Linked DNA regions of Homo sapiens. The protein of the gene in region 2 purifies or fractionates together with the protein of the main gene of each other region. This does not show direct contact. Each region holds a gene or a part of one and is shown on either strand. Other genes may lie near its edges. The genes, in order: ZBTB7A and ZBTB7C.

The links.
Region 1: the proteins of ZBTB7C (region 2) and ZBTB7A purify together in Homo sapiens (affinity purification with mass spectrometry; one large-scale study listed by BioGRID and IntAct). This does not show direct contact.

Annotation. Positions count from the first base shown.
Region 1 is NC_000019.10:4,053,106-4,056,919, forward strand, and holds part of ZBTB7A (zinc finger and BTB domain-containing protein 7A), read right to left. Parts: intron 2,417-3,814; exon of another isoform or gene 2,404-2,416; coding exon of another isoform or gene 2,269-2,403; intron 2,143-2,268; coding exon of another isoform or gene 2,128-2,142; coding exon 866-2,127; intron 1-865. UniProt on the Homo sapiens protein: Transcription factor that represses the transcription of a wide range of genes involved in cell proliferation and differentiation.
Region 2 is NC_000018.10:48,035,155-48,038,968, reverse strand, and holds part of ZBTB7C (zinc finger and BTB domain-containing protein 7C), read left to right. Parts: intron 1-3,814. UniProt on the Homo sapiens protein: May be a tumor suppressor gene.

The DNA.
Region 1 (3,814 bases), on a different chromosome or scaffold from region 2:
AAAAATCCAAAAGTGCAGAAGAGAAGAACCAGCCCTCCAGGAAGGAAGAACGACTGTGCCTTCCCGCCCACCTCCCGCAGCTCAACCCTGTCCGGCACGCTTTGCATATGATGTGGCTGTCATCTTATGTCTGGCCTGTGCTGTCACCCACCGGGATGTCCACCCACAAGGGCAGGGCCTGGTCTAGGCTGTTCTTAACAGCCACGTGGGTCAGGGAAGCGTTCGTTGGCTTTGGGCCCAAGAGGTGGGGTGTGTCTGTTTGCGTGTGTGTGCATATATGTGTGTCTGTGGGTGCATGTTTGCATGCATGTGCATGTATGTGTGCGCATGTACGTGTCTGTGTGCATGTGCCTGCATGCATGTCTGGGGGTGCGTGTGCATCTGTGTGCGTGCCTGGGTGTGCGTGTGTGCGTGCGTGCGTGCGTGCATGTGTATGTGATGTGTATGTGGTGTGCGTGTGTGTGCGCGCATGTCGGTGTGCGTGTGTGTGCGTGCATGTGTATGTGATGTGTATGTGGTGTGCATCTGTGTCTGCATGTGTCTGTGTAGCATGTCTGTATGTGTATGTGGTGTGCGTGTGCGTGTGTGCGTCTGTGTGTGTGCATGTGTACGTGGCATACGCGTCTGTGCATGTGTGTGCATGTGCGTATATATGTGCAAGTGCGTGTATGTGTGTCTGCGTGTGTGTGGATGTGTAGGTGACGTGCATGTGTCTGTGCGTGTACGTGTCTGTGTGCACGTGCGTGTATGTGTGCGTCTGCGTGCATGTGTGCGTGCGGTGCAGGGAGAGAGGCGGGAGGGGTCGTGAGCGGCGGATGCTGGGGCAGAGAGCAGGACGGCGCCTCCCCCGCGGCGGGCAGCTCACCTGGTGAAGCGGACCTTGCAGATGTTGCACTCGTAGGGCTTCTCGCCCGTGTGGGTGCGGATGTGTCGCGGCAGCTTGCCGGCGCCCTGGATGACCTTCTCGCAGATGGGGCACTTCTGGAAGGCCTTGGCTCGGATCTTCTTCTCCACCTTCTGCGACCAGGCCGGGTAGACGTCGCCGTCGTGGGCGCCGCTGAAGTACTTCAGGTAGTAGTCCATGACGCCCTTGTCGTCGGCCCGCGACTCCTCGTCGCTGTCCCCCGCCGCGGCCCCCGCCCGGCCCACCGATGACATCATCTGCTGCAGCAGCGTGCTGGCCGCCAGCCCGTCCACGTCGGGCCCGTCCCCGTCCTCGCCCTCGGCCGCTCCCGACAGGAAGCCCGGAGAGTCGCCCGGCTCGGGGGCCGCCTCCGACAGCGAGGCGGCCTCCTCCTCTCCGCCGCGGCCGTAGTGGCCGTTCTGCGTGGCGGCCGGCGGGGCCACCGGCGGCGGAAAGAGACCCCCGGTGGGGGCGTCCTCATCCCGCTCTGGCCACAGACCCGGGTTGCTGTCGCCCTCGTCCCCGTCCCCCGTCGGGGGCCGCTCGGCCGGGGGGCCCGGCCCATAGAAGTCTAAGCCGTTGCAGTCGCCCGCGGCCACGGCGGCCACAGCGGCGGCCACGGCCTCCTTGGTGGCATCCAGGTCATCATCGGACGCCCCAAAGGCGGACCACGGGAAGCTGGCAGCGGCGGCGGCGGCCGCGGGGGGCAGGCTGTTCATGGGGTTGCTCTGGAAGAACTCGAGGTACTCCTTGGCGCGGAGGAGGTTGCGCTGATCAATTTGATCTACAAGGTCCAGCTGCCCGGCGTCGGCGCCCGCGTCGGCCGCCAGGATCTGCCGGTCCAGGAGGTCGGCGCACACGTGGCTCACGGCGGGGATCTCCAGCAGGCGGGCGGCGCTGAGGATGTCACCCACGTTGGCTGTGCTGACGGTGAGCGTGGCCGTGTAGGCGAAGTCCATGAGCGCGGTGAGCGCCTCGGCGCTGACGAAGTCGATCTCGTACACGTTCTGCTGGTCCACCACGGCGCCCGACGTGAACAGCTTCTTGAAGTACTGGCTGCAGGCGGCCAGCACCGAGCGGTGCGTGGGGAACTCGCGGCCCTCCACCAGGATCACCACGTCGCACAGCAGGCCCTGCGTCCGCTGCTCGTTCAGCCCACTCAGGATGTCGCTGCTGTGGTCGGGGAACGGGATCCCGATGGGGCCGTCCACGCCGCCGGCCATCTTCCGCGCCGAGACCTGCAGCAGTGGGGAAGGAGAGGGCGCTCGTGAGTGGGGGTGCGGGGGTTCCTGTGCCCACTGACAAGGGCCCGAGGCCCTTGAGAAGCAGCGTTCCACCCTGCTCCCCCAGCCTCACATTCCCACCTGCACGTGAAGGCGGTCAGATGTCGCGCCTTTCCAGCCCCAGCTTCCCCAGCTGTGCACCAAAGCGATACATGCCCTGCCTCCAGCCTCTTTTCTTTTTTGTGTGTCTTTAATACAGAGACAGGCTATCACCATGTTGGCCAGGCTGGTCTCAAACCCCTGGCCTCGGCCTGGCGCGGTGGCTCACGCCTGTAATCCCAGCACTTTGGGAGGCCGAGACAGGCAGATCATGAGGTCAGGGGATGGAGACCATCCTGGCTAACACAGTGAAACCCCGTCTCTACTAAAAAATACAAAAAATTAGCCGGGCGTGTTGGCGGGGGCCTGTAGTTCCAGCTACTCGGGAGGCTGAGGCAGGAGAATGGCATGAACCCAGGAGGCAGAGCTTGCAGTGAGCTGAGATCACGCCACTGCACTCCAGCCTGGGCAACAGAGCAAGACTCCATCTCAAAAAAACAAAACAAATCAAAAAACCCTGGCCTCAAATGATCCAACCGCCCCTGCCTCCCAAGGTGCTAAGATTACAGGCATGAACCACGGCACCCGGCCAAGACTGTTTTCCATCTGTGCATGAGGATAGCCAGATGTCCCGGCTCCCCAGCCTCAGTTTCCCCAGCTGTTCCCAAGTGCAGTCAAATGTCCTATCCTCTAGCCTCAGTTTCCCCAGCTGTGCATGAGAATGGTCAGATGTCCTGCCTCCCCCAGCCTGTTTCCCCAGCTGTACACAAAAGCAATCAGACGTCATGTCCCCAGCCTCAGTTTCCCCAGCTGTACAGGAAGGCAATCAGGTGTCCCACTCCCAACCTGTTTCCCATCTGTACACAAGGGCGGCCAGCTGTCCTGCCCCCAGCCTCAATTTCCCCAGCTGTGCATGAGGACAGTCAGGTTTCCTGCCCCCCATCAGCCTCAGTTTCCCTAGCTGTGCCCAAGAGCAGTCAGATGCCCTGTTCTGTCTCATCAGCGTGAGATGAGGCTGGCAAAACCCACACTGGACGCTTAAATTTCACAAGCACACTGGCACCACCCCTCCGAGGAGGGCCCCCGGGAATGCCTGTTGAAAGGGCACTTTGAGGCCCGGCTCGGTGCTCACGCCTGTAATTCTAGCATTTTGGGGAGGCTGAGGTGGGCAGATCACTTGAGGTCAGGAGTTCAAGACCAGCGACCAGCCTGGCCAACATGGTGAAACCCTGTCTCTACTAAAAATACAAAAATTAGGCTGGGTGTGGTGGCTCACACCTGTAATCCCAGCACTTTGGGAGGCCGAGGCGGGCAGATCACCAGGTCAGGAGATCGAGACCATCCTGGCTGACACAGTGAAACTCTGTCTCTACTAAAAATACAAAAATAGATGGGCGTGATGGCACGTGCCTGTAATCCCAGCTACTCGGGAGGCTGAGGCGGGAGAATCGCTTGAACCTGGGGGGTGGAGGTTGCAGTGAGCCGAGATTGCACCACTGCACTCCTGCCTGGGCCACAGAGCGAGACTCCGTCTTAAAAAAAAAAATCAGCCAGGCGTGGTGGCGCGTGCCTGTAATCCCAGCTACTC
Region 2 (3,814 bases):
CGGCCCATTGGTGCTATCTCTGGTTCCTGGTGTGAGGCTGATCTTTTCAGCCATGTCCACAGGTGGGGAGGGCTCTGGTGGGTGGCCTGGCATCAGGGTTTGGTCATTTCAGTGTATCCTGTGTGTACAGAGCCTGGCGATGCCTGCCCTGTGAACATGACTTACTAGACTAGGTCCCTTCCCCACCCTGCCACTGTCCCTCTCAGAGAACTCACCTTGAGAGACCCACACTTGTTCCGGTGGCGGTGCTGCTGCCCCACTTCCTCTTGGAGATGTATCTTTGGGAATTGGTGGCAGCTCATTCTTTTGATTTTCCTCAGTGGGCCCAAAGCTTTGGCCCAAGGACACAGTGCAAGGTTGTGAATGAGACTGGATATCAAATCAGGGACTATGCTTTTCCAGGAAAAAAAAAAAAAAAAAAGATGAGTCCTCTAAAGTCATGAGACCTGTTCTTCTGGGTTGCTTGGAAACTACTGGAAGTTGCCAGAGAAGAGTTTCAGAAATCCATTCAGGTGACACTGGTGTGGCTGAAATAGCTCTGCAGGCTCCTCAGGGGACTGTTTTGAAGGAAACACTGATTATTTCCAAGGTGGCCTTGGGGTCCTGCTCACAGCTGCTTCTGTGAGGGGAACCCCAGACAGCATCTGTCCCAGGTGCTTCCAGTGACAGTAGAGGGAGAATCTGCAGGAGCAGAGGGGAAGGGCCTCACAGACCCAGGATGTGTTCCCTTGCCCTTAGCAGTGAGCTAGGCCAGCCACCCGGCAATGCTGACAGCAGGGCGCCCTGCTCCTGTTACTCCCCAGAGCAGATGGACCCAAGGTTCCTGAGATTCACCTCCCCTTGGATGTCCCTCAGTGACAGCCCTGCCACCCCAATGCCACCGTGGGTGATGCTGCCCCCTACCTCCTCCTGAATTCACCTTAGCCCCACAGAACCAGGCAGAACACCTGAACAAGGCTTGGCAAAAGCACAGGAATACCGAGGGAGATAAGCCAGAGCACCGTGTGAAAGCCAGATTCAAGTACAGCTCACCCATCTTCACGGGGGGCCTGGCTTCAGCCCGAGAGTCCCAGCCCCTGCATATGACTTTAAGGATGCCAGGAAGCTCTTCACAGGCCAGATCAGGAAAGCCAGCCATGTTATCAGCCTGGAGCGCCCTCTCCTGCCAACGCAGGCTCTGCCTCCCTAACTGCCCATGCCTGCCCCCTTGGCAGATGGCTAACAGGAGCACCTCTCCCTTCAGGGGAGACCGAGGCTGGTGACTCCAATTCCAAAAGGATCTATCTGTGTCTCAGGATATCGCACGGTGGCCCTGCTGGCACCCTGAGACCCCATCTCCCTTCTTCCCCACTCCCTTTCCTCTGGGCCTTCCCCACGCACAGCCTTCTGTGAGGTCCACGCCAGGTCTGGACAGTCTGTGCACCCTGTTTTAAGGGAAGGTTTTAACCGTGCGTAGTCACTGCAGACAGACTTCTCACCCTCTGGACCCTGGGACATTCTCTGGGAGTGGGCGTCCTGGTTTGGGCAGCAGTGCTGTGTTGTATAGGAGGGTGACATTCCAGGTTCCTCCCTCCCAGCACATTCCTGATGGTCACTTGGGGTGGCCTCTCTGTCTGCAGTCCCCACTCCCAGCCAGATGATAGGCAGTGGGGCAGCTCTGGTCATCCAGCCATCTGGCCTTGGGTTCCTCCTGCTCCAGAATGACGGCCATCTGGCCCCAGGCCTGTCTCCAGCTGAAGCTGCTGCATTGCAGCCCCCTCAGCACCCCCACCACTTGTTCCCACTGGTCTCTGACCCTCCCGAAAAAGATCAGACAAGCTCTTGGGTCCTTCTCTTCCCAGGAGGAGAGAAACCCCGAGCTGGGGAAAGGCAGGGTGGAGGAGATGGCTCCAGCCTGCCTCCCTTCAGAGGCTTTATTGCTCACTGTGGGCTGTGGCTGTCCTTGTGGGACACTCCCCACTCTCCTCCCCCTCACATTCTTCAGAATCACTGGGCCTTTGCTTCTCACCCCATCTCTGGAACTGCCCGGCAAGGATTCTTTTCCGTGCTTGAAGAGCCCCAAGCGTGGTCTGTCCAGGTTGAGGTTTTCCTGTAATTCTCCCTGTGGCCAAGGCTCCCTGCAGCCTTTCCACGGGGACCTTATTTTTGGCTGAATTCCCCAACGCGATTCCTAACACCTGCCCCTTCCACCTGGAAGCTCTTCAGCAGCCACTTAGAGCAGAGACGGCTGCCTCGTTGACGCAGAATTCCCAGACTCCCTTCCAAGGCCACGCCACTTCCTGAGACTGGGCCCTGTCATGTCACTCTTGTCCCCGCAGCAAGGACCCAGACATGCTGCCCTCAGGTCCTTCTCTCGGACATGATTTCCATTTCCCCTTCTGGAACCCGAGTCTTTCCTTCATCACAGCTGAGCTTCTGCCCTGGCAAAGCCCCATTTCCTCCCTCCTTGATGTTGGGAAGAGCTCAGGGTCTTGTGACACCCTCCCCGCCCCACCCCATGGGGTGCTGGAGAGGCCTGCCCTTCCCCTGCATGGTAGCCCTTCAGCCCAGGCTCTGAGTCACAGCCTCCCAGATGCCAGCTCCCAGAATGTCCACACCCCACGGGGACGTACTAATGACCTCAGCAGCCACAACCCAGGGGGAGGACATGGGAATCCTTCCAGCAGAGCCCCTTCACCCCTAAGGCCCTGCCTGCTGCTGTCATTCTGTGGGTCTAGAGAGGAGGGACAGAGGCCGCCCCACAATGGTATTGTCTGTTCTTTGGTGTCAGGAACCTCACCTCTGAGGCAGCTCTAGATTCCAGCCAGTCCTACCAGGTGTCCCACCACTGATCTGTTCCAAATATGAAATCTCCCTAGGCAGGGCCTCAACGGCATCAACCAAACTATTTCTTTGGCCCCATGCTGTCCCTTCCTAGCTCTGGTCACCCCATAGCCACTTGGGCTCCCTTTGCCTGTGCACTCCCTCGGTTTAGTTCAAAGACACCGTTTTCCTCCTGGGAAAGGCTTGTGCCTGTGCTGGCCACAGAGGCAGCTCCTGTCCCTTTCAGGTCTGACTTGGGACACAGAAACAGCTCCAGGTCATAGGGCAGAGGCAGTCTGGACCAAGATTACCTTAGATCCTCTTCATCAGGAATCCTTTCCCTTCTCTTCCCAGAAAGTCTGGAAGCCAGGAGCCAAAGGTTAGGATGGCAGGCTTCGGCCAGAGGTGATGCCTAGGAAGGGCCTAGAAGAACAGGGAGCATGTGATCTCAGGAAGATAAAGCATTTGTCTTCATGCACAGGGACACTGCTATGCTTGGTGGGTATTTTCCCTGCCCACGGACATCCCAGGTCCAGGTGGCCCCCGCACACCTTTTTGCCCCATCTGCAGCCATCACTGCCAACTGGGCCTGGCCCTGGGCCCTGTGAAAGCCTGTGCATCTTCCGCCTCTTAATTCCCACCACATGGGTCCTTGATTGCAGGCCATAGAGACTTGCCCCTTGCCTCCCCCAGCCCTTCTGTTAGTAGCTCCTAGAGAGCATGGCTGGCTGGTCTCCCTCCTGGAGCCCCTGCATCCTGTCACAGCCTGGCTCCCAGAGATGCCCCAGCCATGCCTGATGGGGACAGTAGTGAAGGCAAGAAACTGCAAAATGAAAACAGACTGGCCCAGAGACAGCAGAGGTCCCATAGAGCACACCGTCCTGGGTGGGGATGGACGACCTCTGCACCGCAGTCACTCTCTGACAAGGCACGCTTTCCAGTTCCGCTGAACCCCGAAGGCTGTGCCTTTTAGTCTCCACCTGCCTCCTCCAGTGCCAGCCGAATGCTGACC